Linked DNA regions of Homo sapiens. The protein of the gene in region 3 interacts with the protein of the main gene of each other region in a biochemical or structural test. Each region holds a gene or a part of one and is shown on either strand. Other genes may lie near its edges. The genes, in order: XKR7, DOCK4, MAGI2, KCNB1, KCNJ12, ATP2A2 and RSBN1.

The links.
Region 1: the proteins of MAGI2 (region 3) and XKR7 interact in a test that uses a peptide from one of them, tested with the Homo sapiens proteins (one large-scale study listed by IntAct).
Region 2: the proteins of MAGI2 (region 3) and DOCK4 interact in a test that uses a peptide from one of them, tested with the Homo sapiens proteins (one large-scale study listed by IntAct).
Region 4: the proteins of MAGI2 (region 3) and KCNB1 interact in a test that uses a peptide from one of them, tested with the Homo sapiens proteins (one large-scale study listed by IntAct).
Region 5: the proteins of MAGI2 (region 3) and KCNJ12 interact in a test that uses a peptide from one of them, tested with the Homo sapiens proteins (one large-scale study listed by IntAct).
Region 6: the proteins of MAGI2 (region 3) and ATP2A2 interact in a test that uses a peptide from one of them, tested with the Homo sapiens proteins (one large-scale study listed by IntAct).
Region 7: the proteins of MAGI2 (region 3) and RSBN1 interact in a test that uses a peptide from one of them, tested with the Homo sapiens proteins (one large-scale study listed by IntAct).

Annotation. Positions count from the first base shown.
Region 1 is NC_000020.11:31,998,503-32,001,961, reverse strand, and holds part of XKR7 (XK-related protein 7), read right to left. Parts: 3' UTR 1-3,459.
Region 2 is NC_000007.14:112,199,091-112,203,681, forward strand, and holds part of DOCK4 (dedicator of cytokinesis protein 4), read right to left. Parts: intron 1-4,591. UniProt on the Homo sapiens protein: Functions as a guanine nucleotide exchange factor (GEF) that promotes the exchange of GDP to GTP, converting inactive GDP-bound small GTPases into their active GTP-bound form. Involved in regulation of adherens junction between cells.
Region 3 is NC_000007.14:78,123,725-78,128,315, forward strand, and holds part of MAGI2 (membrane-associated guanylate kinase, WW and PDZ domain-containing protein 2), read right to left. Parts: intron 3,693-4,591; coding exon 3,473-3,692; intron 2,114-3,472; coding exon 1,970-2,113; intron 1-1,969. UniProt on the Homo sapiens protein: Seems to act as a scaffold molecule at synaptic junctions by assembling neurotransmitter receptors and cell adhesion proteins. Plays a role in nerve growth factor (NGF)-induced recruitment of RAPGEF2 to late endosomes and neurite outgrowth.
Region 4 is NC_000020.11:49,475,364-49,479,954, forward strand, and holds part of KCNB1 (potassium voltage-gated channel subfamily B member 1), read right to left. Parts: intron 1-4,591. UniProt on the Homo sapiens protein: Voltage-gated potassium channel that mediates transmembrane potassium transport in excitable membranes, primarily in the brain, but also in the pancreas and cardiovascular system.
Region 5 is NC_000017.11:21,378,761-21,383,351, forward strand, and holds part of KCNJ12 (ATP-sensitive inward rectifier potassium channel 12), read left to right. Parts: intron 1-4,591. UniProt on the Homo sapiens protein: Inward rectifying potassium channel that probably participates in controlling the resting membrane potential in electrically excitable cells. Probably participates in establishing action potential waveform and excitability of neuronal and muscle tissues.
Region 6 is NC_000012.12:110,346,755-110,350,018, reverse strand, and holds part of ATP2A2 (sarcoplasmic/endoplasmic reticulum calcium ATPase 2), read right to left. Parts: 3' UTR 2,627-3,264; coding exon of another isoform or gene 2,607-2,626; 3' UTR 1-2,606.
Region 7 is NC_000001.11:113,773,746-113,778,336, reverse strand, and holds part of RSBN1 (lysine-specific demethylase 9), read left to right. Parts: exon of another isoform or gene 1-517; intron 518-528; coding exon 529-666; intron 667-984; coding exon 985-1,127; intron 1,128-4,591. UniProt on the Homo sapiens protein: Histone demethylase that specifically demethylates dimethylated 'Lys-20' of histone H4 (H4K20me2), thereby modulating chromosome architecture.

The DNA.
Region 1 (3,459 bases), on a different chromosome or scaffold from region 3:
GCTCAAACCCCAACCCTACTACTGCCCATGCGGCTTGACACCCACTTGTTCCCTTCCATTGAGACACTGCAAAGCACTTTAATATAGAAACTACAGCTCCCCCTACCAACCTCTACTGCAGGCCCCACCACAGCTTGAACTGGGAGGGAGACAGGTGCCAAAGGTGGCAGGGGCCAGCACAGAATGGGACTCTTGGGTCCTGGCTTTCAGTCCACATCCTGCACCTGGACTCCCCTGCAACCCAATGTAGATTCCTCCTAACCAGGGGCCCCCAAGCTGGAGAAGACTCCAGCAGCCTCTAACCCCATGAGGCACTGGAGGGGCCTGTAGCCCTTATCAGATGATTCCCAAACCAGGGACCCTGTGGACCCCCCAGATTTCCCTTTTCAGCTGAGAGGGCAGTGGGCTCAGTTCTCAGATAGCCAGGTGATGGGGATTTAGGGTTGGACTAGCAAAGTCTCAGAGGGAGCCACAGCCTCTGTCCCTGACTTCCGCTGAGGGGTTTCCACTTGGCAGGACACTCCAGAACCTTCTCAACATTTTGAACCGTAAGTCTCAAACTGGTGGCACGTGGGCCAAATATGAGTGGCCAGCAGTTTCCCAAACATTTGAATTTTAGTACCTACAGGCAGGGCACACACTCACTCTCCTGTCTGCCAGAGTCCCCAACACTCCCTATTGTCTCCATTACTCTTAGTTTCATTATCTCGAGGCATTTGAGTTTGCATCCCATGCAGCCTTCGTCCCAGAAAACCTTCTCCCTATTGTCTGAGGCTTCTGTGGACTCCAGGTCCAGATTAATTCCAAGGGAAGAACCTGCAGAACTCGAGTACTTAGGAGGGTGTTGACTGCAAGCGAGACCTTCCCTGGATATTCCCAGCTCCCTCAGCCCTTATCCAGAGGCCTGGACTTTCCCCAGGCCTCACCTTCCCTGCCCTCTGTCTTTCCCGACTCTCATGGGTGACATGCCTCTGTGGGACACAGGTGTAGCAGGGAGCTGGCTGGGGGTAAGGCAGATTTGGGGGAGACACAAGAATGAGGCAGATGACAGGAGGGGATCAAGCAAGGCTCCCTCATTGGGGAGCCCTGTGTGGGGGAGTGGGGAGGTCTGTGCTGTTCAGCTGGGGTGACAGTTACAAGGCACATGGCACATCAGTGCCAGGAGGCGCCGTGATGTGGGTGTGTGTGGTGCCTGCAGAGGTTTGGGGAACACAGTCAACAGCGTGGGGGTCAGTTCTAAGAAAACAGGTAGACAGAAGTCTGCCCTGGAGATGGGGACACTGGTCTCCTGGGGTTAGAGGTAACTGAGGGCAGGGCCTGCCATATTTGGTACCCAAAGCATCCTGTTCTCTTCTGTTCCTGGCAAAATTAAGACACACCCAACTACCTCTCATCCCCAGGGAAATCCTAACTGCCACTGACTTCCTGTGTGGCCTTTGGTGAGTCCTTGGTCCTCTCTGGGTCTCACTTTCTCCTGTCTAATGGATGTGGAGGGCAGGTGGCTTAAGGAACCCTCAGGGACCCTCTGGGCTGCAAGGACCCTGGCAGGGTGGGAAGGACAGGGAAGGACTGAACATCCAGACTGGGGTGGGGGTCAGGGGACAGGAGGCAGAGGACCAGGGGGGTCAGTTCTGCTAGGGGAGAGACTGGCTGAGGTAGATTGTGTCACAGAAAGAAAAACAAAACAGCTCCAAGGGGATGGACCCCTCCCTCATCTGACTCCTCTATCCCAGTGAAATGAAGGGACAAGCCAGTGGAGCAGGGGGCCTCAGGCCTGGTCCCGAGCTCCTGGGTGGAGAGTCCTTTAAGGGCTGAGACTCTTCTGAGGGTGAGAAGCAGGAGGAGGTGCCTGCAGCCCTCTCCCTGGGCCCTTTGACTGTGGCCATTCCTGTGCCCAGATGTCCCTGCAGGCAGAAGCCCTGAGGGAAGGGTGTGTGGGGTTGAGAAGAGGTGGGGAGTGGGGGTGGAGTAAAATCCAAAAATGTAGCCATGGCTTCCCTGCGAGCCTCAGACCATGCCAAGCCCTGCCAGCACATCCCTGCCCCTTGGGAGTCTCCTGGAGTGTAAAGGACCCCAGCTAGGACTTTTCCTCTAGAAGGCAGCAGCCAGATGGGCCATTCTGGGATACTGGGGAGGAGAATAACTTGCCAAGGGTGACCCTCATGCTACATCTCTGGGCCTCAGTTTCCTCGTCTGTAAGATGGGTTGATAATACCTCTCTTGCAGGGACGTCGTGACCAGAGGAGAGTGTAAGTGAAACGACATGGGGTGAAAATTCCTGGCACAAAGTTGGCCCTGGAGAAACAGTCTGTTTCTGGGTCTGGGTCCGCATCTTCAGAGCTCCCATCTCACAACGGCTTTGTGTGTGAATTCAGCCTCCAAAGATGGATTTGGAGGATGGATGAACCCAACAGAGTGGGCCTGGGTCAGCCTTGGGCTTCTCCCACCTCCCGTCACCCTCGAGGCCTCGTTCCTGAGGGTGCTTAGCAGCAGAAAGAAGGAAAAGCACTCTTGCTGTGTTGGCAGGAGGGATGATGCGTACACCATCTCGGCCTGTGTGCTGGTGGGGAGGGTGACCCGTATCATGGTTGTGCTTGTGCTTGTGTGTATGTGGGCAGTCTGGCCCTCCCTGCCTTTGGGGTTACCCTGCATCCCCAGCAATTCATCATTACCCATCACCTTTTGATGGGCAGCCCAGAGTCTGGGACCTTGAGAGAGTGGCTGCCACTCTGGGCCTCAGTTTCCCATCTGTAACCCAAGAGAGGCTGAACCAGGGAGGGCTAAGCATCCCTCTAATTTGCATAGTCTAGGATTCTCATGGCCCACCTCACTCCAGGATCAGGTTGGCATCTGTCCTTAACATCCGCTGCTGTCCTCTCCCACCAATCACACCTAAGTTGCTGTGGGAGTGTGTGTGTGGGGGGGTGGGGGGTGGGTTGGGTTCCCAGCTCTGCTAGAGGCTCTGTCTCCTCACCCCATGGAACTGCCTACTTCCCCTCTCCCATACGCCCCCTCAATCCAGCACTGGCTGTCCTAGGTGGGAGGAGGGGCCCTGGGTGAGTCCCCTGGGCACTCCAGGATGTTCAGGCCATGGGAATAGACCACAGGTCCTGGGGAGTCATCAGATCTAAGGCAAAACAAGTCAGTTTCCCAGATGCCGCTCCAGGGAGCCCCATTTGCAGAGTGGCTGAGAGCCAGGATTCATGTCACGTCCCCAGAGCTATTTTTTTTTCCAGCTGGGAACCAGTTGGCAGCTGAAATGTCTCAGGGGTTCTGAGGACAATTTCCTTTTAGAAAGATGGCTATGGACCAAGGTAACAGGGGCCTAGAGCTCCCATGAGCCCCAGAAGTCTAGAATGAGAGCACCCATTCCTAGAAAATTCCATTCACGCTGGGCTCTAGAACCTCTTCTCCCCCACCACTGTGACAGGTGCTAGAATCCCCCACAGCAGAGCAGCA
Region 2 (4,591 bases), about 34 Mb from region 3:
TAATGGCTAAGAGAACAGTTTCTATGCAAGACAATTTAGGTTCCAATCCTAGCTCCACCATTTACAGTATGACCTTAAATAAGTTACTTAATCCCTGTATGACTCAATTTCCTGTGAAATATGAGTGATAACTGAATCCTCCTTCATGAGGTATCATGAAGATTAAATGACAATATAAGACAAGCTCTTAGAACTGTGCTTGACATGTAGCAAGTGCTCCACAAATGCTATTTTATATTGCAGTTTCCAATAAAAGTTATATAAAAGTTTCCAAAAGGATCATGATTACCATACATTCCTCAGGGTACTGCATATCAGTTTTACTGCAGTTACGTTACCAAAGGCATTCCACTTTTTTGATGATTTTTATTTACTTAGTAGTTACCCAATGTCATCTTGGCACAATTTTTTTTAAATGCCAGAGAGTCCAAGAGTTGTTCCTGAAGTAAGTTTAAGTTGCTTAAATGAAGCTAGGCTTGGGGAACTTTAATTCCTTATTTTTTTGTCTTATATACTCTAGCCAAATAAGCATATAGTTCACTTTTTTAATAAAACAAGTTATACAAGTTGCCTTGTCTTTCTAATAATGATCAGCAACATAAAAAAAGGTACAAAAGAATAGTGAGTGGTAAACCTACAACTGGCAAAGTACCTCAGTAAACCATTATCTTTACTCTTCTGTTATAGTGACCAGAGAGTGTTGTCAAAGGACATGATACAGAAGAGTCTAATATTGGTCATTATGTAATCCTTGTCAAAAAGGTCCTGGTAGGAAGACATACAAGTACTAAAAGAGAAAACTTACGCAATGCATGTGATGGCTTTAAATATTTGTTCCATCTTTAATAAGAAATACTACAGAAGACAGACTTTGACTTAGACTGAAGGAAAAAAGGATAATTAAATTCTTTGTTAAAATAAACCCACATATCTGACTATCAAAGACAATAACCACCACCACCATCAACTCCTTGCCAATGTCATGAAAGGAACTTCACAGAAACCCAGTAAGATGTGAGTTGCAGTCCTTCTGGTATCACAAATGTAGCATTTAAAGCAGTGTTTTTCAAACTGTGGGTCAGGACCCATTAACAAGTCAATTTAGTGACAAGTATTTTTTTTAACAAAAAAGAATAGAACATTACATAGAGTATAAGCAAGTGCTGTTTTAATTATATGTGTGTGGGGTGGTACTGGGGGATATTTATATATATACTAGGTCAGGAAATTAACTATATTTCTTATGGGTAATAGTCAAACAAGATTAAAAGCTACTAATCTAGAGTAAGTCACTTAAACTCTATGAAACTGTTTTCTCATCTCTTAAATAGAAATTACCATTCAACTTCAAAGGGTAGACTCAGATAAAATAATTTCACTTTTTAAGTAAAACATTGTATTACTGTGTTACGGTTACAGCCTTTTAGAAGGGTTTCATTAGAGTTTAATGTTCCTCTGATGTATATATTCACAGCATGAAGTCACTGTGATAGAAACATAGACATATTGTATCAAACATAACTCAGAAAATGTTGTCTCCTTTTGGAAAAGAATAGAGCTAGAGATAGGAAATCCTAAATTTCTTGAAATTTGTATAATCTCCCTCGTACTAGCTACCATAACAGCCTCTAAAATAAAAAAAAAAAAACAAAAAAAAACAAGATCATAGAGGAAGAGCAGCATCTCTATGTGGCTTCAGGGGCCTTGTGAAGAACTGTCACTTAGGGGAATGACCAAAAGAGGGGAACATTTTTATAGACCATTCCCATAGGAGGCCAGATCAAGAACATAAGCTGCTATCCCACTGTCTGTATGGCCCTTCGGTGGTATTTTACTGGGAGGTATAAATCATTTCTCTTCTATTCCCACTTAAAGTTTAGAATCCTGTGTCAGGCTCTAAATGTCACAAACAATTCCAAGCAGAACATTATTATTTAGCTTTACATGCTATGTAGATACATCATAGGACCACTAATAGAAAACACTTTAAGAAACTGTTAGCTAAGAAACTACAAAAAACTAAGAGTAAAGGAAACACATCCTTATTACGCTCTATCACACACATACGCTATGATTAAAGCATCTTTCTAAGGAGAAAGACACCTAACTATCCTGTATGAATACGAGAAGGTGCATCTTCTTCCACCAACATAGAAGGGGCTTTAAAAAGGAACATGATTCCTACCCAGATGAGTTCAAAAACTCCTTCAAGAAAAATAGAATACAGGAATTTATGTGATGACTGAGTGATACTCGCACCACACAATTTATTTTTTAAATGACACTGTGACTTCAGATCAGCTTGTTCTGAGTTTTGTTTCTTATAAGGTTCATGGATTTTCTGCACCGATCAATCCAGCCCGTGTTCTCCTGTCAAGCTTAACTAAGCTCACACATGTAAAACATCTGGCTAGGTTTGAGGGGTGCAGCCTTCAGCTCAGGAAGATGCCATGACTCATCTGTGAATCTGTGCATAAAAGCCTGTTGGACAAATGAACGCAAAAACAATCTGCAAAGGTCTTAGCTTTCTCCATGAATAATTCCCACCACTTTAAGGCGGGGTGGGGAGGGGGGAGGAATGGGGGGGTGTGCTAACAGATGAGGACATGCAGGAGGTAGAGGTAATCTGAGGAAATTGGTGAGTATGCGATCAAGAATGCTTTAGTCACCATTCTGTGCGATAGATCACTAAAGCATGTTCCCCCTGTCTCACCAAAACTTTGTACACTTTGATCATCATCTCCACTTTCCCCAACCACCCTCTTCCCCCAGACTCTGGCAACCATCACTTTAATCTCTATATTTATGAAGTAAACTTCTTTAGATTGCACATGTAAGCAAGATCATGCAGTACTTATCTTTCTGTGCCAGACTTACACTTACTTCATTTACTATAATACCCTCCACATTACTGAAAATGACAGGATTTTCCCCTTTTTCAAGACTATATAATATTCCATTGTGTATAGATACTACATTCTCTTTACCCATTCATCTGATGATGGACACTTAGGTTGCTTTCATATCTCAGACATTTTGAGAACTGCTTCAATGAACATGGGATAGCAGATATTTCTTCAGCATACTGATTTCAATTCCTGTGAATATATACCAAGCAGTGGAATTGTTGGATCATATGGTAATTCTATTTTTAGTTCATTGAAGGTCCTCCATGCTGTTTTACATAACAGCTGTATTAATTTACATTCCCACTAACATGTGCACAGCGTTCCCTTTTCTCTGCACTCTCACCAATACTTGTTACCTTTCATTGTTTTTATACAGCCATTCTAACAGATGGGAGGTGATATCCACAGAATGGAGATACAATAAATAACAATGCATTGTATACTTCAAAAGTGCTAGAATGGATTTTAAATGTTTTTTACACCACAAAAATGGTAATTATATGAGGTGTAATTTGTTAATAGCCTGATTAATCACTCCAACTGTAAACGTACATCAAAATATCACACTGTACACCATAAATATATACAGCTGGGTGAGAAGGTGCATGTCAGTAATCCCAGTTACTCAGGAGGCTGAGGTGGGAGTATTGCTTGAGGCGATCAACCAGGAGCTTGAGGCTACAGGCTATAGTGCACTATGATGGCGCCTATGAATAGCCACTGCACTCCAGCCTGGGCAACAGAGCAAAACCCTGTCTCTAAATTAAAAAAAAAAAAATGAAAACTTAAAAAATATATTATTATTATTTGTCAAGGAAAATACATTTAAAAAACAAACAAAATGCTTCAGTCACTGCCCATGGAGCTCCTACTAGCCAGAGAGAATCAAACAAATTGAGAAAGAGAGGAACCAGCACCTCAGTTCTGGCAGCTTGCCAGGTAGCGTTTGCTTACCTCTGATCTTACTTAAAAACCAAGTGAGATATGTCACAACAAAAGTGTCTCTGTCATAGCAGTCTCAACACAATGAAGATGTTTTTCTAACCAAAGAACACAGTTAGTTGGAAGAGCTCTACAAAATTAGTACCAGGGAAGGCTTTAGTTAACACTTGCCCCAGACGCTGGGACCCAGAAAGGCTAAGTGATTTACCTAAGGTTACACAGCTGGCAGCAGTGTCTAGCCCAGAATCAAGAGCTAACTAGAATCTCCTAAGGTGAAATTGCCTATCACTGTGCCTCTTAACATGATTTCTAAAAGACAAGGTTCCCTGTTCCTCAGAACTATAACTTCATCACTATACCTTTTCCTAAAATCAGAACACTTATGACTGACTTTTCGTTGTTTTAATGAATTTAATCATTCATTAAATGGGACGGTGCCTATACATCAGTTACGAAAAAGAATTTCCATCTCCGATACATTTAATTACAGATATAAAATTTAACTAATTTTACCCATGTTTACAGTATGCTGCTTAAAATTTAATCATAAGTATATAAAAGCATAATTATCTCATACATAAATGAGGGTATATAAAAAGTACCTTTGCAGAAATATATAATTTATACTAAAACGTCACATATTCTGTTACAAAGACTGATTTATTTCAAAGAATGAAGAAACTAAATTACCACTACACTTGGTAACAAAGATCTGTGCCCATAAGATCTTTTCTTTAACA
Region 3 (4,591 bases):
ATTTTTGGATTGCAGTTGACACAGGTATCTATAATAAAACCTCGGAAGGTAAAACCTCAGAGTTTCACCTGAAGAGCTTCCTAAAACATAGCCTGGTGACCCCACTCCTAGAGTTTCTGATTCAGCAGTTTTGGGTGGGGCTAGAGAATCTACATTTCTACCAAGTTTCCAGGTGATGCTGATGCCAGGAACCGTGCTGAGAACCATTGCTCTGGCTTAAATTCTGTAAGAAAGAGGAATCTTTTCCTGCAAGGGTATTTCTCTATTTAGGCTTCTTTGCCTTGGGAGTACTGTGTATATCCAGCAGCGAGTCATTTAGATCCCTTGTGAAAATACATGGCCACTGTTTGTAACCGACAGAGACCAGCCCTGTAGTCCACCGTGGGTCTCTATCTCTCACAGGGCTCTGGCCATTTTGCACATGGTCTTCCTACTGTGTTTCACCTGCACTGGAAAGATTAATTTTGTTTTACTTAACTGCTTGTGAGCTGGCCTTATAGCAGGTTAAGAAAGTGTCCTTCTGGCTTATAGGGAAGCTGTAGAGCCAGGAAACCATGTGGAGGCCCATCTTCAAATCAGGGCTAGACGGGGTAAGAGGAGGCTGGTGCTAGATCACGGGGAGGGCTGCCAGTCTCTGGTGTCAGCCCTGCCTGGGTTTAAATTCCAACTTGGATGCTTCCCAGCTGTCAAAGGATTGTGGTAGTGGGGAGAAACAAAGACATGATGTGCATGCCTTCTGCTTTTGGACTGTGGATAATCCTCTGACTTGGAAATGCGTATCATAGAAATGCAGACTTGGTGGTAGAAATAACAGATTCAGCCATCAGGGAAAATTGGTTGGTGAGGCTCTGCACAAGAACCTGAGGTTCCGGAACCCCAAAGCCACAGCTTTTCTTTATTAACTTAAAGAGGCAGGAGGGAGGGCAAGAATAAATTCTAGATTTTATTCATACACCGACACACACACACACACAAACACACAGAGAGAGTAAAGAGACTAATATTTTATATTGTTAACAAGCTTTGTTTTATACCCTTAAATGAAGAATCAGTTACCCATCAATCAGATGCCTCAAAGTAATTATTAAATGAAAAAATCTACTCTTAACTTTAATTGGAAAATTTCTAGCTGCTGTCTTTTTTTTTTTTTTTTCTTGAGACAGATTCTCACTCTGTTGCCCAGGCTGGAGTGCAGTGGCACGATCTTGGCTCACTGCAACCTCCGCCTCCCTGGGCTCAAGCGATTCTCCTGCCTCAGCCTCCTGAGTAGCTAGGACTACAGGCGCCCGCCACCACGCCTGGCTAATTTTTTTGTATTTTTAGTAGAGATGGGGTTTCACAGTGTTAGCCAGGTTGTTCTCCATCTCTTGACCTTGTGATCCTCCCGCCTCAGCCTCCCAAAGTGCTAGGATTACCGGTGTGAGCCACCACGCCCGGCCCCTGCTGTCATTTTTAAGAACAACCTGTATCCAAGAAGCCAAATCCCTTTTACTCCTAATGCTTCTGTCTGCCCAGTATCAAACCAAAAGACCAGTCAACACAAAGGAAAAATTTCCTAAAAGTCCCGCAAAACCATGTGATTAATCAATATGGGGGAAAAAGCACAAAACTAAAAATAAATTTCAAAAGATTCAACCTTAATCAAAACAGAATCATCAAACCATAGAAAGAATTATGGAGAAATAATGTTTCCTTTTCAAGCTATTTCTTAGATTTCTTTCATTTGCTCTTTAGAAAAATAGTACTTTACTGAGGTTAATCAATTAGAAGGTCATAAGCAGAAAAATGAGAATGAGAGATATTATAAAATAGCAAGTGGCCAGACTTTTAAGAAACTGGGTCATCATCAACTAGAAAGAGGGCAAACCTACAGCAACCCCGCTTGACAGCATGCTTCAGTACTCTTCCAATACCACAGTCGGTTTTTCTTTCAGAATTAAGCAATTCTATAAAAAGAGACTGTTCTTACCCTCATCCTCCCATTCCTTATTGCTGGTCCATCTTCTGCCAGTCTCAACACATACAAATCCATTTTGTATTCCCTTCCTCCACGAATGCTGAATCCAAATCCTTTGGCTCCTTTCTCCATGTCCACAGTGAAATAATCAAAATCCTTTGGGGTTGGGGAGAAAATGGAATAAATAATTATTTAGTTATCAGAGAAGCTTCTGTGGCTAGTCTCTGTGTTCTCCTTCTGTCTCTTAGTTAATGTATTCCAAATGACATGATGTTGGGAGAAGTCGTAATCTGGCTTCATAAACTACCCAAATGAAAGACAAAATTCCAAAGGTTTGAGCAGGCCAGAGCACAGTTTACTTGGTCATCAAAGAATTACTGTGTAGCTTGTTTACTTTGGTATTCATCAGTTTACTTGGCAAACGTGGAATGATTACAGATAGGCCTGAGTGACATCATCTCTCCTTTTACTTCTCTCATTCACTGCTATTGAGCACCATAAATAAATGTCAGGTGTGTGTGTGTGTGTGTGTGTGTGTGTGTACAAATTACAGAGTTTGCTGATTAGAAAAGTAAAATTTAGTGGGATCTGATAATTAGATCTCTCAGTTGCACAGACTATTGAATATCAAGTTGGAATGTACAAAATCAATTTCTCTTTTACCTAAAATGCAGTATGTCCAAGATTCTCTGATCTTCACTATTCTTAAAATCTTTGGGCATAAAGTTGATCTTCAATTCATAATAAAACACAATGTAATCTGATAGAGTTGAGATTGTACTTAATTTATATCTTGGTATGTAGTTACGAAGTAGGAAATATTTTCTAGATACCAAACTCTGGTCTAGACTCTTTTCATAAATGTTGAATCCTCATCCTGGCCTGTAAGGAAGACTCTCCCTTTAGGAAACTGAATCTCAGAGAAGTTAAGGAAGTTGACATGAAGCACATCAACAAATAATCATAACAACAGTGACACTGGTTGTGTAGACAGAGAGTTGTTGGCTGTGGCAGGCGCTACACTCTGGATTGTGAAGCCAAGCCTGGTCTTATTCTTACGCACAGGGGCTTGGCCCTTTATCACAGAGTGGCAGGTAGGGGGCCACGTAAAAAAATATGGACCTAAAATACCTCCACTGCTAGCATCTATAAAATTTTCTGCATTAGCAGCACTCTCAGAGGTCCCAGGTTAGAGCATTTTTAAAACTTTGACAAGGAAACGTACAAGGAGTTAGCTAGTATTAGCAGGGATTAGTTTATTCCATTACTACTCATCCGCTATTTATTTATGTATTTATCCATATTTATTTATTGTCCTGCTTTATTCTGAAATAGATTTATTTATCCAGCATGTTTCTGAGGATGCAGGTGTTACCCCGATGTTACCAGAACTAGGAATAGAACTTCAGCTCTCCATCCCAGACAGGTACTCTTTCCTCTGCCTCTCCTATTTCATTCCTTGCAGTTCTCTGGAAGCCTTGGTCAGGACCCACCCTGCTCTCCGGGAGGAGGTACCTGGGGTTGTCTGTAGTCCGACAGAGGGTACTGCCTGGTGTCGGGGGAGTGCTGCCTGTAGTCCAGTAGGGGAGGCTGCCTGTAGTCCAAGGGTGGGGGCTGCTGGTAGTCCCCTCCTGGGGGTTGCCTGTAATCCAGCGGGGGCTGCCTGTAGTCTGTGAATGGAGGCTGTCGGATGTCTGGTTTCACATCTTGCCTTGCTTTCACTTCCGACCTGTAACTAAATCAATGGAAATGGGATTTGCTTTTGTAACTCTGCATTCTAAAGAGGCTAGAGTGATCACACGGCCTCCAGAGGTGGGCCAGCCATGACAGCTCACACAAACCACTCCTCTCGGTGGTCCTGTTGGATGCTCAGGATTATGAGAAGGTTAAATATTATTTAAAAATCTCTGACAAATGCCATATTGTATGCTTTTTATTTGGCTCCTTACGAAGTCAAGGTAAAAATGATGGTTCAACCAGAACCTTGTGAAAAAGCACTCATGGATGTTCCTCTTTGACTTTGGCTATTTAAAAACTGTACAGCCACAGCAAATCAAGGGATTGAAGCACTGAACTATACAAACCAAGACATCAGCCTATCTTAAGACTGGTAAACCAACCTTCCTCTCTCACTCTTACTTTTTTCTCTCACACACACCCCTTGGCAGATCATTCATTACTTCATAAAAACATGATTGAAGTGATCTCTAAATACATTACAAATACACAATCAAAGGCTATTTTAACCTGCTGAGTTGGGTCTTTTTGAATATTTTACAGAGGTTAAAGGAGTGATGGTAAAATATAATCACCAACTACAAACCAAGTGGCAAGTCATTGGACCATTGGTAAAATTGGAAACATATTACACAGAGGTAATACTAGATCATAGCTATCAAGATTAGCATCAAATACTACTGTGGTCATAAGATGGAAGAGAAGGCAAAAATGTTTATGTCCAACATTTATCTCTTGCTTGCTTCTAGATATTAGTTACTAATGAAATAAACACAGAGATGAGAGCTAGGAGTGTAGCATTGTTTTGTGAATCCAAACTGCTTTAAGCTGAGGGGGTTACTAGTTTCAAAAGAAATAGCCAATCCCTACCATTATGGGATCATTAATAAGGTGAAC
Region 4 (4,591 bases), on a different chromosome or scaffold from region 3:
GAGGCAGGCACAGTGATTGGCCCAAAATTGCTGTTGGCTGAAGGAACCAGGGCACAGAGGGCTGCAATAGTTGACCCCAAATCACATGGTTAGTGAGTAGAGAAGCCAAACTCTGAACTTGGGCAATCCAGTGCTAAGGTCAAGTGCTTCCCATCCTGATGACATTATCAAGTACAGGAAGTACACAAAGTGCTGGGTATGGAGTTGGTGCCTAACGCATGCTTGTTCTCTTCTAGTTAGTTAAGCTTTGGCCAACCCATTCATTTGACCATCTCTTTTTCTTCCTAGCATTTCACATTCACACAGCAAGTCGGTGAAAGATCAGGGGCCATGCCCAGGCCTTTCTGGCCCCGCCACCCGTACCCGCTGAGGCTCAGGGATCTTTCTGTTACTCCAGGATGTTTGACCAGGATCATCTCTTAGCAGCTGGTCTCTCAGGGGATTTGAAAGGCTATGATGGGCTGTGTGATCCTCAGCAGGTCACTGGAGCATCCTGGGTCTCTGGGTTTCTTTATCCTGTGGGGATGTGGGATTTCTCAGGCACAGCTTCAACTCTGATCATGTGCTATCATCCTTCATCCTTCAGACAACCCTGTGGAGTAGGTTTTATTATCGCCCTCACTTACAGATTAGGAAATGGAAGTGATGAGAGGTGAAGCAAATTGGCCAAAGTCCACAGCTAGGACAAGGCTGGGCTGCGATTCGAAGCCAGGTCTGTGTGACCCCACAATCAGGATTCAGAATTGCTGGCATATTATCTGCCAGGATAAAAACAGGCATCTGGTTTGACCAAGCTGGGGCCAGCAAGAGCCTAAGTCGATGACTCATCACACTGAAGGGGCCCCATAGATTCTGAGTTGGTTCCCGCATTTCTTTTGATGATAATACACAGATCCTTGTGGCTCAGGTCAAGGAAGCTGGAACCTCATTACACTAGAGACGTGTAGCTGGAGCAGAGGAATTCCGTGAAAACACTAACAATCGTTGCTGCCACTTACTGAATGCTTCCCATGAGTCAGGCGCTGGGCTAGGCTCTTTACATTAGGGGCATCTCCTAACAGCTCTTCATGGTTGCCTCTGTTATAATTCTCATTTCCTAGATAAGGAAAGTGACACTCAGAGAAGGAAAGGGGCTTGCCCAAGGTCATATTCATGGTAAGCAATGGAGACAAGAAATCAACCGCATCTGTTGGACTCCAGAGCTGATTCTTAATCAAGTCTGTGATGGGAAAAATATTGACCACTGTTCCTAAAGAAAGGCCACTCTAAGCTGGGCATGATGGCTGTCACCTTTAATCCCAGTGCTTTGAGAAGCTTAGATGGGAGGATCACTTGAACCCAGGAGTTCGAGACCAGCCAGCACAATGTAGCAAAACCCTGTCTCCACAAAAAAAAATTTCTAATGTAGCCAGGAGTGATGGTGTGCACCTGTAGTCCCAGCTACTCAGGAGGCTGAGGCAGGAGGATCACTTGAGCCCAGGAGTTTGAGGTTACAGTGAGCTCTGATTGCACCACTGCACTCCAGCCTGGGTGACAGAGCAAGACCCTGTCTCTGAAAAAAGTTAAAAAATTAAAAATAAATAAATAAAGGCCACTCCCACTTTTGAATACAATAATACTTCATACTTATAAAGTACTTTCCATTTACAAATTACATTCACATCTGAAATCTCATTGAATCATCAAAAGAGCCCTGAAAGGGAGCTATGACTATTATCACCATCAGGCAGATGAATTCACTGGACCTGAGAGCTAAAATGATCCACCCAAGGTCCCAGGATTTAGAAACATAGGCTTGGGAACCAGACAAACTTGGGTTCAAACCTTGGCTCTGCAATTTTCATTCCTTTGATAAATATTTACTGAGAACCTAGCTGTGTGGGCTCAGGCAAGTGACTTCGCCTCTCAGAGCCTCCATTTCCTGTTCTGTAAAAGAGTCTTCATACCACTTATCAGATCCATTCCCTCTCTCATCTGAAAATGCCAGACACTTGCTTTCTCAGGTTCCCTCAGAGCTAGAGCATGAGCATGTGACCTGTCCTGGCCAATGGGATTTTAAAAGAAGTCTGCTAGGGTGCTCCTGGGAAAGGGTTTCCTCTCAGAAAAAAAAAGAAAGTGGGCCAGGCGCTGTGGCTCACACCTGTAATCCCATCACTATGGGAGGCCAAGGCGGGCAGATCACTTAAGGTCAGACATTTGAGACCAGCCTGGCCAACATGGTGAAACTCTGTCTCTACTAAAAACCCCAAAATTACCTAGGCATTGTGGTACATGCCTGTAATCCCAGCTACTCGGCAGGAGGCTGAGGCAGGAGAATTGCTTGAACCCAGGAGGCGGAGGTTGCAGTGAGCTGCCGAGATCATGCCACTGCACTCCAGCCTGGGCGACAGAGCAAGACTCCATTTCAAAAACAAAAGAAAGAAAGTGGAGCATAGGAGAAAATGTTTCTCTTCACGGATTAAACATCACTGAATGTACGTCTGAGGGCTGGAACTGGGCAGCCATCTTGTGATATGAAGCATCAAGCATGAGGACCAAGCCACTTGCAGGGGTTGGGGAGCAGAGGAGCAGAGAGATGAAAAGAATCTAGAATCCTGGTGGCATCATTGAGCCATTAACTCAACCTAAAACCAACTGCCTTGGAACTTCATATTATATTCAATGATGCATCTTCCTCCTTATTGAAGCTACTTTGAGTTTTCTATTCTGCTGCTTGCAGCCCAAAGCATCCCTAACTGGCATACTACCTGGTTGTATCCCTGTTGGAGGAATTTCAATGAGATAGCAGATATGAAGCACCACTAATCAGTGCTGGGCACAACAAACATAAGCTACCCTGGAAATTAGGAAGTTATCTCAGGGCTTTAATCCTGAGACTATCCCAGGGATCACAGACACTCCTGGGCTGGCAAATCAGTTCCCTGTCTCTCCTACTGAGAAAAGCCTGTCGAGTTTTCCGAGAAAGCCAAAGCCCCGTGGTAGCCCCAGCACCGCAACCCTGTCACACCAATGGGGCTGTCCCCATCTTCTAAACAAGAATCAATCACACTGCCTTTTGCCTAATGGGTTTTGATTTTCGCTCCCCTGATGGCAAAGCCTAGGGCCTGTGCTTTGGTTTGTCTCCGAGTTGCCAGAACATCCCATCAATTATTAACAGTGTCAGCTCAGTCTCCCTGGCCCTGCTGCTCTCAGAAGGAAAGGGTTTGCAGCAACTCGGCCCACCCAGCCCTAGAAAAAAGACTCTTTTCCTTAGCATTTATAACAACAATCCCCACCTGCTATGTGCTAGGCTTTGAGCAAAATTTTGACAAATGTGATTTAATGAAGACCCTGTAAGGTGAGCCTTTTATCTCCATTTTACAGGTGGAAGGTTGGGACTTGGAAAGTTGGAGAAATTAGCTAAAAGCTATGGAAGTGGGGAGTGGCACAGAACCAGATCCATCCTTGCTCTTCAGCATATGAGATATGGCCACTTTTGTATCTTACAATCACCTAGAAATGATCCTCCATTTGGTCCTGTCACTCTGTGAGTTCTAAGCAATTTCCACAGGCTTTGCTTGTTTTGACAAGCAAGGCATCCAAGCTGGGGGGATGGGTGGGGATGGGATGGGCAAGGTGCAGATGACTCAAAGGAGGCCAGAGGCACAGGGACCTGGGTTGCAGGTGGGCAGTGAGAAGGGGTGACAGGTCCCCAAACCCTGAGACACAGTGACTGACTGCTTGCTTGCTTGCTTGATTCATTCATTCGTTCATTCATTCATTCGTTCATTCATTCATTTATTCATTCCACATGCTCCTCAGTGCCAGGCACCATCATGGGTGCTGGGAATCAAGCAGTGAATCAACTCATGGTACTCACATTCTTGTGGGTGTGAAACAGAGACACACAAAGAAGGAAATATAATTTCAGATGGCGTTTAAGGCCTCTGCAGGAAAGGCATTGCATGATGCAACAGAGAGTGAGGGGAGGGAAACTGTTTAGAACAGCGGTCAAGGAAGGTCTGTATGAGGAGGGGACATGTGAGCAGGGACCTGCTCAAATGAGGAAGGGGGAGAAGGGGCTGGCCAAGGGGGAATCTGGGGAAGAGCATTCCAGGCAGCGGAAACAGCAAGTGCAAGGGTCCTGAGGTCAGATAAACTCTGGCCTGTTTATGGAACAGCAAGGCCAGTGGGGCTGGAGCCAAGTGAACCAGAGGAGATCAAAAGAGATGAGCCCAGAGAGGTCATGGGGGCCAGATTCTGCCTGGGCCTTGTATGCCAGGATGAAAAGTCTGAATTTTATTTTGAGTGTGATGGGAAACTTCTGGAGGATTTTAAGCAGATGAATAATGTGATCCAATTTACATTTTGAAAAGCTCACTTTGGCTGCTATGTGGGGAATGGATTGCAGGGGCAAAAGTGGAAGCCGGGAGACTGGGGAGGAGGCTGCGGCACTTGATCATTATAGAAAGAACACTCGGTTTGGATTTCTGGCTACTCCTGACTGCCTGTGGTGTGACCTTAGGCAAGTTACTTAACCTCTTTCAGCCTCACTGTTTGCGAAAGGTGGGATAATAACAGAGCTGCGTTGTTACACTCCATACACAGTAGG
Region 5 (4,591 bases), on a different chromosome or scaffold from region 3:
CAGCACTGAAGGGGGTGGAGCCTTCTCTGGGAGGGGCAGGACCTGAGCTGTCAGTCCATCTCTGGACACTCCCCCTGCAGCTACCCCGTCAAAACCCCATAAGGTTTCCAGGCTGCCCCGGAGGGGACCCCTCCAGGAATGTGCCTCAACTGTGCTGGAAGGAAGAGGTGCCTGGGAAGTGGTGGAGGGGTATTGCCTAAAACCATGCAGTGGGTTGGGTTTGGACAGATGCCTTCACCTAGCTCTTTCCAGGCCAGGCGCTTACCCCACCAGCCTTCCTGCCCCAGGGCCATGGTGTCCCCATCCCTGGGTCTCCTTGAAGCAGGACAAAGTAACACTGAGTGGCCCTGCAACAGCAAAATAATAATGACAGCAGTGATAACAGGAGTAACAGCAGCAGCAGCACCTGCAGCTCTGCAGCACTGGGGCCGGTTCTGCCTATGGGCAGTTTTCTCTGCCTAGCCAGGCCTCCGGTACCCTGGGCCACAGTTGGCAGTACCAAGCGTGGCACCCGGAGGCCTTGGCATATGGCTGGGGCGGAAGTGAGTGCATCATTACTGTCATCAACCTCTGTGGCCCTCGCCAGGTCCCCAGGCAGAAGGCTACTGGTACACACGGTGCCCACCCAGTGGCCACCCTCACCCCCCCTGCTCCCAGGCCCAGCTCTGGGCTGGGCCCTTCCTCCAACAGGTGCAGCTGGTGCCTGTGGCTGGGCCCTGGCCAGGGCTTTACTGTGAGCGACACATGGGTACACCTGCCCCTCCCCGGGCCTGCCCTTGGAGCCCTGCCACCGGCTAGCGTGGAGGAGAGTCAGGGAGGGGGCAGCTTGCGGGCAGCAGGAGGGGTGGAGGCTTGGCTGGCCACATGGAAGGTGCGGTGGGTGGGGGCTCAGCCCCACGGGATGGCTGTGCCGGGAACTGGCAGCGTGATGGGGACACGGCAGCAGGGAAAGGCTGAAGATGAAAGAGAGCTGGCCTGAAACTGGGCCGTGTGCAGGTTGGCCAGAGCTTCAGAGGCACCATGGGGTTGGGGGTGGGGGGGGGCCTGGCAGAGGCAGGTGGGTTTTCTGAGGTGCTGGGCTCGGGGCAGGACCAGAGCCCCCGCTGGGCACTGGCCAAGGACCCAGCCCTGGGTCAGCTGACTTAATTTCCTAATGGCCTGCCAGTGCAGAGGGTGGCATTAGCTCTATTGTGCAGACAGGGATTGGAGGCCCAGGGAGGCACTGGAGGCACCAGCCTGTGGGGCTCAGACCCAGAGCCCTGGTGCTTTCCCAGGGACAGAACTGCACCTTCCCCCATTCCACAGACACACCCCTCAGGGGCATTTGACTGCCAGGCTAGCTTTCTCCCTGCCTTACCACCAGGCAGGTCCCACACAGGGCCTGAGGCCTGCATGCCATCCCAGCTCCCGGGAGCTGTATTCCTAGGACCTAGTTAAGCCCTGGCACAGAGTAGGTGCCCAGTAAATGCTCGATGATTCCATGTCTGGACTGCTTCTTCCAGCCACAGAGGCCTTGCTGTGCTGGTGAGAGCTGTGGGGGCTGAGTTCTGGGGCTGGAGACCCCAGGCCCTGTTGCCTAGCTGTGGCCCCTGTGCTGGGTAGCCATACAGAAGTGCTTAATCAATGGGCATTGCATACGGGGAGACCCAGCCCCTGCCCTCAGGGATCTCACTATCTCAGAGGAGACTCTTGGACAGACTCAGGGGGGCAAGAGAGGCAGATGTTGCCACCAAGATGGGGTCACTCTTCCTGGCCTCAGTTCATCATCTGTGAAGTGGGACTGGCTCCGGAGAGTGCTCAGGATGGGGCAGTAGGAATGTGAGACTTGGAGCGTGCCTCTGGGAGTTGGGGGTGGGGAGGGGCTGGTCTCAGTAGAAATGGACGTGTGGAGAGGGGGATCTGGGAAGGAGGGGGTGTGAGCATTTGTGGAGCCAGAGCCTGGGGAACTCGTCATTTCCCCATCCAACCTTCCCTTGGACATGTAGGGAAGCAGGCCCAGGGCAGGGCAGCGAGTTGCTGTAGCAGTGGGCCCCAGATGGCAGTGGGCCCCAGATGGCAGTGGGCCCCAGATGGCAGTGGGCCCCAGATGGCAGTGGGCCCCAGTGCAGGCCTCCTGTTTCCTGGTGTGTCCTCAGTGTCCCCTAACCCCAATCACCACCACTGGTGCTCCACAGCTCACTCCTTCCTGCCTGGCTGCTGAAGTGGCAGCATGAGGCTGTGGAGACCTTGGGGACCCCCGCCCAGCCCTCTAATTAGCCTTCAGCCATGCATCATTGGACATGGTTCCATTTGCTTGGCCAGATAGGAGTGGGAACCCCTTTCTCAGCTGCCCCAGGGAGCAGTTCCGCCTTGGCTGTGCATTAATGCTGTCCTAGGGTCAGTGGGCACAGCCTCCTGGATCCTGCCTGACTCCCCCTGCCCACCTGGACTGAGCCCTCCCTCCTGCTTGGGCAGCCAAAGCCTCCCTCTCCTGCCCTCACCTGCAGCCCAGGCCTCTTTGAAGGACTCAGGCTTGGAGAGGGGCCAGGGAACAAACAATAAAGCTTATGGAGTGGAGGCTTCTACCAGAGCCACTCTGGGCCATTGTTCCTTGAGCACTTTCTATGTGCCTGGTGCACTCTGGGTGTCAGGGCCCTCTGTCGATTCCCACCACACTCCTCCCTGGGACCCTCAGGGCCCTGCACAGTCTGGCCTCACTTCCAGGACTCTTGCTCCCTCCCCGGGGCCACGCTCCTGCTTGCCTTGCTGTGCTTCCAACAGATCAGGCCCACTCCTACCTCAGGGCCTTTGCACATGCTGCTATCTCTGCCTGGAATGTTCTTTCCCAGATCTCTGCACGGCCCCTCCCTTACCGCTTTCATGTCTTGCCCAGATGCCACCCTCTCTCCAGGACCTCCCCTGATTCCCCTGTGGGACACTGCAGCCTCCCTTTCCCCCATGTTCCTTTTCCTGCTTTATTTTTCTCTGTAGAACTTAATGCTATCTGCCACAATATATTTTATTTGCTGATCTTGTTTACTGTCTATCTTTCCCTTGGAATAGGATCTCCTCTTTTTGGACCTATTCTACCACAGCTGTGTCCCCAGTGCCTAAGCGGTAGGCAGGAGATGGCAGGCGCCCAGTAAACACAGAGAGTGAATGGGCTGCTTCAGCCAGGCCTGGTGCCTGACATGCAGTGAGTGCTTGGTAGCAATGGTAGCCAGCATTGTCAGCCCATTCTGCAGATGAGAAAACTGAGCCTCAGAGAGGTCACTGTCCAAGAACTGTGGCGCTTGTTGGTGGACAGAGCTGGATTCTGACCTTTTCTCTGAGCCTTTGGCCTGCCATCTGTCTGTCTGGCTGAGTGGGAGGGAGTTGGGGCTTCCTTCAGGCCCCTACTCTGGGTGGAGTGCTTTATATCTGTACCCTCACTGCTTCAAGCTCCAAGCCCTGTTGTGTCCTCTAGCACTTGGCCTGCTTCAGCTCAGGATGTCCCCATCTGATTCCTTCTGAGGATCACAAGCCGTTCCCATTGCAGATCCCAGCAAACTGAGGCCTGGGGCGTGGGGCCTCTCATATCTCAGCTGATGGCTGAATCCTTTCTCCTGCCTTCAGCATACATGTTTGGAGGGCGGCTGAGGGGATGGGGCTGGCAGGGAGGGGACAGTGTCTCTGTTTCTTGCCCAGTTAAGCATTCCAGACTCCCCACGGTCATTGAGTTTCATGTCAATGCATTTCACCTCTCCTTTCCAGTCTTTTTTTTGGAACATGACACCCACGTTATAAAATGTTTAAAAATGTTTATGATTTGCAATGATCAACTCCAGCGGCTTTAGTGGCCAGCAGTGATCACCTCTGCAACTATAGAGACTGGCATGCTTTCTGCTTGCCTGAGCACTGCCCGTCCCTCCTCCCCTGGATGTCCATGTTGCCTCAGAAAAGACAGGGCTGGTGGCCCCTTTTGTGGGGAGCAGATAGGTTCTGGTCCTGGGCCTCAGCCAGGTGTGCCCGGTTGGCCAGGTGTGCAGCCAGGTGTGCCAGGATGGGAGATTGTCTCCTGGGGCTCACCTGGGGAGTGGGGGCAGAAAAGGAAACCAGGTAACATGAGGACTGGCAGCAGGGATACTTCTCAGCCCTCCCTGCCTCCACCCCAAGGGTGTACAGGAGGGTGCGACGTGACACCTCCACTGTGGGAGCGGGCAGCCTGAGGCCAGAGAGGGTCCCCACAGCCGGAGGTCACACAGTTCCCGGAGGAAGGCTGGGGCGCAGCCTTGAGGCCACAGACCCTCTGTCCCTGATGCTTCCAGGCAGCTTTTGGGGACTTGGCAGGGGAGGGGCCGGGGAGAAGGGAGCATGTGGAGACTGAGATGTGTATGATAGAGAGGATGAAAGGCCGGGGGCAGGAGAGGTCAAGGGGGATGGAGTGGCCTGGTGGCCGGAGGTGTGCCCTTGCCCCTGCCCGCCCCGCTTGCTCCAGCTGCAGCCGGGCCCGAGCTGGCGGCTCCAGGCCTGCAATTCTCCAGCACTTAAAGCAAAAATAAATCGCTGCCAGCAGCTGGCGTTCTGTGTGGCAGCAGCCGAGCCAACCCCGCCCCGACCCTCTGCCTCGGGG
Region 6 (3,264 bases), on a different chromosome or scaffold from region 3:
CAATCGTTGCAGCTGTGAAAGCAGCGAGACAGGCAAGAGGACAAGGTCTTGGTTAGTGGTGCAGAGGGTGAGGTTGATGGAGAAGTGAGCAGCCAGTAGCAGCACAGCCTTCCTGTCCCTGCCCTGTGGGCACCCGGCTTCTGGCTGCTCGCCTGCCTTGCCTAGCCCTGGAGAGGAAACTCCTCCGCATCATTCTCCTCAGTAAAGGAGGGTGAAGCCTACCCTTCTTGCTAACTGCAGCGGGTGTTTGGACAATTTGGTGGTTACAGTCACAGGGCAACTGCTGGCTCTGCTCACAGGCACTGCAGACGTGGTATGCTCTGGCCCTGGACAGTGGCTAGATGCTTGGTAGACACTGAGCTAATCTTGTGGTCTCAGGTCTTAGGTCTGCCCACCTCAGTCAGGGCTGAAGCTCCAGTCCGAGGGGATGTGGGAGCAGCTGTTGTGAGGGAAGTCGGCCAGATGCCCTGCTTGCCTGGGAGCTCACTGAGCTCAAGGGACAGCTTCCTCCAGAATGGATCATCTGCATTCTGCAGAGTGGTGTCCCAGTTAGGGTATGTATGATTGTTGGTCTTCTGGGCAAAGCTCAGAGAGGCCAAGGGAGGCACGGGGTGGCAACAAGCGACACTGATGGCTGGGCCTTCAGCCACCTGCCCATCAGGAAAGAATGTGGAAGTAAGTTTCAGGCAAGAGCTGCCTGACAGCAGGCACATTGCGGGGCTGGGCAGCTGCTGCCTCACTGTTAGGTGAGGGCCTGAGGCCAGGGATGTGCCAAGACCACGGTGCTGGACCTGGTCTTTATGGGTTGACCTGAGGAGGAGATGCTGAAGTGTTTTCACCCAGCAAAGCCTTCAGTGAAATGGAGCAAGTGGCCCTGCTCAAAACAGCAGTGGGCCTAACCCACTCCCAGCTGTCTGGACCAAGGGAAGTGGGTCCCTCCATGGGCTCCTCTGTGGGCTGGAGGGGTCTGAAGCTGAGAAACCATGAAGCTAACTAGGGGCTGTGCGACAGCAGGCCACACACTACTCAACTTTTTTTGTAAAGGCCACTAAGTCAAGGAACTGAGTCAGGAAAAGCTGAGTTTTGTTTGCACGGAATAGCAATAGTGCAGCACTCAAGTCAGTTTGCAGCCCAGAGATGCACTCCTTGCATTTGGCCCATTCAACCCATTTCTTGTTACACCTCATGATGCTCAAACTGGCAAAATTTACCCCCTGCCCCAAATGTTCCCTGCTGGGCAAAGCAGCCTCCCTTCCCGAGAGCCACAGCTGCCTGCGAGCAGCCTTGGAGGCTTCACAGTAAGGCTGATTTTTTTTTGACAGGGCCTCACTCTGTTGCCCAGGCTGGTTTGAGTACCTGGGCTCAAGCAATCCTTCTGCTGTGGCCTCCAAAGGGCTGAGACTTACTTACAGGCATGAGCCACCACACCCAACCACGGACTGTGCTTTTAAGAGTCGGTCTCCAGGTTCCACCTCCATCCCTTGAACGTGGGCCCTCTGAACTCAGCAGCACCTTGTCCTGCTTGATGCCTCCTAACCCTCCCCAAACTCCAACCATCTGCATTACATCTACTGGCCATCCCAGTAACCAGAGCCTAAGTACATTTTGAAGAATATAGTCGAGGCCTCACACCCTGGCTAAGGAGTAAGCTGGTTTTTGGGCTGTGCAGAGCCACGTCCTACTAACTGTGCTTTAACATCCCCTGCAGAGCTAAGTCTTAGCCACCAAGGACAAGACCAAGCAAGGGGGGGTGGGGGAGTGGGGAAGTGGCCTATTTAAGACGAACCTATCGATACCCAGAGTTCACTGGTTCAGTTACTTGCTTTCACTAGTTTTTAGCTTTTTAATAAATAAGTAGCAATGTTCTGGGATGACTCCTGGCAGCTGCGAACCCTCATTTTAGCAATAGTCTGCACAGCTCCTTCAGCCTGTTGGTCTGGCTGAAATGCCTCTCTCCCCACTCCGGCTTTTGTCTGGCTTGGGCCCTCCTGGTCATCTTGTCCTAGGCAGCCTGTGGAGGTCTATGAAAGCCACACCTCCAGCCAGCTGATGCTGCGCCCGAGTCACATGGCAGGCGCCACAGGCAACCCCGGTGCTCACAGGGCATCAGGGAGCACAGCAGCATCTGCCATGGAGGCGGCTTATAAGTTAGTGACATACAGTTATCTCACTTGGTGGCAGTCACCTTTAGGCTAAAGCATCCAAATCCCAGGAAGAAAATACTCACGTTAGTTGATGGATGTTGGAAGGCATTGGAGGAAAACACCACAGTTAGGACTGTTAATGACTTACACACTGTTGGTGAGACTCATCTCGAACATGCGCAAACATTGATCGTAGTAACGGTGGTGGTGGTTAGTGCCACATTCAAATAAAAATAGTTCTATACAATATGTTCATTTGGTCATGTGCTATTTACAGATTTTACAAAACACACACATACACACACATACACACTTGCCCTTATGTTCTCTATACCAGGCCAGCAGAAACTTGCATAAAATGTACATCACAGATGACAATTAGTGCCTGTACATTAAGAATACAATTCCTATGACTACCTACACAGCAGAGCAGGAGCCTTCTTCCCCTCAAGCAGAGTACAACTAAAGTTCTGAGCTAAGAACTGGAGAGAAAGTTGGACATGTCTGTTAGTCCCAGGTAAGCCACTTACGAGTTAAAGACAAGACAGTTATTTTTCTCTGTCCATTTAAAATGTTTTATTTTTTTAAAACTAGATGACGTGCCACTGAAATAGGCAATGTTGGCAAAACAATGTCTGTTACAATAAAATACATTAGACATTTAAATAAATAACCTTAAAAACTATGTGAAGGGACATAAACCCAGTCGATTGAATCTGGAACAATGTTTTCTGCACAAGCGAGTACAGGCATACCTCTCGTTAAAACTGATGTAAACAGAACGAACCATCACAATCCTAAAGAAGAAGCCAAGCGGGGCGGGGGTAAGGTGGGGAGAGGTGGGGTGGGGTGGGGTGAACGGAGGCCAAAGTGGGTGAGGGAAGTAGCAAACCAAAACAATACTGACTGAGGTAGCAAGACTCTGCTCAGTGCAGAAAAATTGGCTTATGAATAAAAATTAGACTGTGATATCAAATTAAATCCGGATCATCATGCAAAAGACACAATACATGCTATTTAGTTTTAGAAAAAAAACCACACACATTCATTTCCTAAAATCTGCTGCCAATTAATTTGCTGACAATGTCTGCTGGCTCAACTATTTTTTTTATACAAGGAT
Region 7 (4,591 bases), on a different chromosome or scaffold from region 3:
ACAAAGAGTGAAACTCCATCTCAAAAAAAAGGAAAAAAAAAAAAAAAAGATTGGCCTGTCTTGGTAACAGTGAGCCTCGTATCCTGGTATCTGGGCTAAAGTGAAGACTTTGAAGCTAGGGAGTACAAAATGAACATGGAAGATTAATATGACTATGGTCTTTTTTTCTCCCTGCCCTGATGATTTTACTTTTATATGTTTTTTTCTTAAATAAAGATCACACTCTAAAATATTACAAAGTTAAAAAAATCATTTTTAGAGAAGTTTAAGTATTAAATAGATATTAATGTCTTCAATGTTTCTTTGAGATCTTCAGGTTAAATCACACATTGAAATTTGCTTGTGGCATATGTATTAGTGTATTTGTCAGTGTGCTTGGGTGCCTCTCTGACTTTATTCAAGGTATTGACCATTCAGTTCTTAGTTTGTAGAAGAAATGGCAACGTTGGAAACAATAACCTATTTTAATTCTTTAATTATATTATAGTTGTACCTCAGTCCATTTTTCCCTCTTTTGTTTTATCTTAGGTCAACAGGACATACTGCTGTGGCACCTACCGAGCAGGTCCTATGCGGCAGATAAGTCTCGTTGGAGCAGTAGATGAAGAAGTTGGTGATTATTTCCCAGAGTTCCTTGATATGTTAGAAGAATCACCATTTCTGAAAGTGAGTGTTAATTAAGATTATTAAAGTTTTGATCTTTACTTAAGTGGGCACTTTATATGTTGAAGAGTATTTAGCTAATATTGCCTATTGAAATTAAATTTATCCAGTGTTTTGCACAGAAATGTTTAGATAGAATAATATTAGTACAAAGTACTTAAATTCAATTATTCTTTTTAATATAAATTACTATGTAAATAGCATTTATTTCTTTATATACAGTTGTAAAAAAGCCTTCTTAGAACTTTTATTTGGGTGGGAGGATTAACTTATAAATCATTGAAACAATTTTTTAATGTGACTAATCCGTCTGATTTCTAGATGACTTTGCCCTGGGGTACACTTTCTAGCCTCCGACTCCAGTGTAGGTCCCAGAGTGATGATGGGCCTATAATGTGGGTAAGGCCAGGAGAACAGATGATCCCTACAGCAGATATGCCAAAGTCACCCTTCAAAAGACGACGGTAAATATTTCTTTTTCTCAAATAAGCAAAACTACTTTTTTTTAGTTGGTTGCTTATAAAAATGAGCACAGTTTGAAAACCATTTGTCTTGGGCTCCCTTAAGTAAATGTTTTAGTTGTCGGTTCCTCTTTTCAGTCCAATCATCACAGTTATCACAGTGAGGCATTTTTCTAAAACACAAATTTAATTTTTACTTATTTTTTAAAAACCTGTGCCCTAACTGCCTGCAGGATAAAAGATCAAACCCCTTAGTGTGGTTTACATTAATAATCAGGTCAACTGTACCTCTTCTAGATGTATCTGTGTTTAGTCTTCTCCGGCCATACCGAATTCACTTTCCAAACCATAGTCTATCATAACTCTTTGCTTTTGCACTATTTTTTTTTTTTTTTTTTTTTTGAGATAGGGTCTCACTCTGTTGCCCAGAGCTAGAGTGCAGTGGTACAATCATAGCTCACTGTATTCTTGAACTTCTGGTCTCAGGAGAGCCTCCCAAGTAACTGTGGCTATAGGTGTGTACCACCATGCCCATCTGATTAAAAAAATTGTTTTGTGTATTTTATTTTTGTAGAGATGGGGTCTCACCATATTGCCCAGGTTGGCTTTGAACTCCTGGCCTCAAATGATCCTCCTGCCTCAGCCTCCCAAAGTGCTGGGGTTACCGTCCCACAGCAAACTTAATACATTTTCAAAACTTAGCTTGAGCTGGGCACAGTGGCATATGCCTTTAGTCCTAGCTACCTGGTAGGCTGAAGTAGGAGGATCAGTTGAGCCCAGGACTCCACGACAAGATCCTGACTCAAACCCAAACCAAAACCAAACAAAACTTAACTTGGACGTCACCTCCTTTGTGAAGTTTTTCTTTCCTTCCTTAGGTAATTAATTGTTCCCTACAATGTTCTGTTCATTAAAGTTTTGTTTACATGTTTTTATTTTCTACTAACATTTGAGGTGTGCTTTGGGAAGACAGGGACTATTTTATTCATCTTTGTCCTCATGACATATACTAGGTAACCAGTATTTGCTACATGAAACCAATAATGTTCTATAGGACCGAGCCTCAGTAATTCATATTGTGCTAACATGTTTTGTGTTTCAGACTTTGAAGACAAATGTAGATTAACTCACTCTCTAGTACTTTGAAAAATCTAATTTAATGAGACTGAAAATGATCTATACCTGCTTAGACTACGAAAATAGCAATTCAAAATAAGTGCCCAGAAGTGAGTTTTAATGGACTAATCTAAACCTTAACTTAAGGCTCATAGGAGAATGATACTTGAGCTAAGTATGGAATAATCTTAGGTACTTGAAATGTATGAAAATACTTTGAAAACATTATGTACGATGCAGGGTGGTGGCATGGTAAAAACCCAGGAGTCATTTGAAAGTTCTGCACATTGCTAGATTATAGCAGTTTTTGTTGCAGGATGATGACGAATCTTGAAATCTTATTAAATTGTTAAATACTATATACATTTTTTGTTCTGTAATCTTTCCTCAAAAAATGACCATCATTTGTTTCCTGATTTTTATAAACTTAAGAAAAAAGTAATAGGAAAGAGTAAAAAGAGGGCAGGTGCAGTGGCTCACACCTGTAATCCCAGAACTTTGGGAGGCTGAGGCAGGCAGATTGCTTGAGTCCAGGAGTTCAAGACCAGCCTGGGCAACATGACAAAACCCTGTCTCTAGTAAAAATACAAAAATTAGTGTGGTGGCACGCTCCTGTAATCCTAGTTACTGAGGTGGTTGAGGCATGAGAATCGCTTGAACTCAGGAGGCCGAGGTCGCAGTGAGCTGAGATGGTGCTTCTGCACTCCAGCCTGGACGACAGAGTAAGACTCATCTCAAAAAGAAAAAAAAAAAGAAGAGTAGAAAGAAGGCAGGCTGGGCATGGTGGCTCACACCTGTAATCCCAGCACTTTGGGAGGCCAAGGCAGGCGGATCACCTGAGGTCAGGAGTTCGAGACCATCCTGGTCAACATGGTGAAACCCCATCTCTACTAAAAATACAAAAATTAGCTGGGCATGGTGGCAGCCGCCTGTTATCCCAGCTACTCGGGAGGCTGAGGCAGGAGAATTGCTTGAACCTGGGAGGCGAAGGTTGCAGTGAGCCGAGATTGTGCCACTCCACTCAAGCCTGGGGGACAAGAGCAAGACTTCATCTCCAAAAAAAAAAAAAAGGTAGCCACCATTTAGGCATATTAACCTTTCAAATTATATATAGCCATAAATAATCTTTTTACAAAATCCATTCTTTGTGTGATGTTTACTTTAAAACTTGGGAATTTTTACTGTATGGTTGTATCAAGATTTATTTAACCAATTCTTGGTTTTTGTTTTTGTTTTTTCTTTGAGACAGGGTCTTACTCTGTCACCTAGGCTGGAGTGCAGTGGCATGATCAGGGCTCACTGTAGCCCATCTCCCAGGCTCAAGTGATCCTCCCACCTCAGCCCCACCAAGTATCTGGGACTACAGGTGCCTGCCACCATGCCTGGCTAGTTGTTTTTTGTTGTTGTTGTTGTTGTTTTTGAGACAGAGTCTTGCTCTGTCACCCAGGCTGGAGTGCGGTGGTGCGATCTCGGCTCACTGCAAGCCCCTCCTCCCGGGTTCACACCATTCTCCTGCTTCAGCCTCCCAAGTAGCTGGGACTACAGCCTCCCGCTATGATGCCCGGCTAATTTTTTTTTTTATTTTTAGTAGAGATGGGGTTTCAACGTGTTAGCCAGGATGGTCTCGATCTCCTGACCTCGTGATCCACCCGCCTCGGCCTCCCAAAGTGCTGGGATTACAGGCGTGAGCCACCGTGCCTGGCCTGTTGTTTTTTTTAATTTTAATTAAAAAAGAGTTGGCCCTCACCAACTCTTTATTAGTGTAATTTTTTCCCAGGTTTTCAATGTAAACAGTATTTTGAAAACATGATACTGGTGTGCTGGAGCCAGTTTGTACCTGTTCACAAAGGCCATCATTAGCATCACTTTCCAGTTCCACATTGCGTGATGTCACGTTAGTAACTGGAAATCATTCGTGTTAGGTGTATTTATACCATAGAAATCAGCAAATCAGCTAAAATCAGCCACCTCCCCTGACCCTCAAGTCAGATGTAAAGTATATAGAGCATACCACTGATTGTATATGGATGGAAGTTTGGTAGATATGTATGTTTGTGCATATGCGTGTTTGTTTTCTTTTTTTTTAATATTTTTTGAGATGGAGTCTCACTGTGTTGCCAGGCTGGGGTGCAGTGGCGCGATCTCGGCTCACTGCAACCTCCGCCTCCCGGATTCAAATGATTCTCCTGCCTCAGCCTCCCGAGTAGCTGGGACTACAGGCATGCACCACCATGCCCAGCTAACTTTTGTATTTTTAGTAGAGACGGGGTTTCACCATGTTGGCTAGGATGGTCTCGATCTCTTGACCTTGTGATCCTTCTGCCTCAGCCTCCCCAAGTGCTGGGATTACA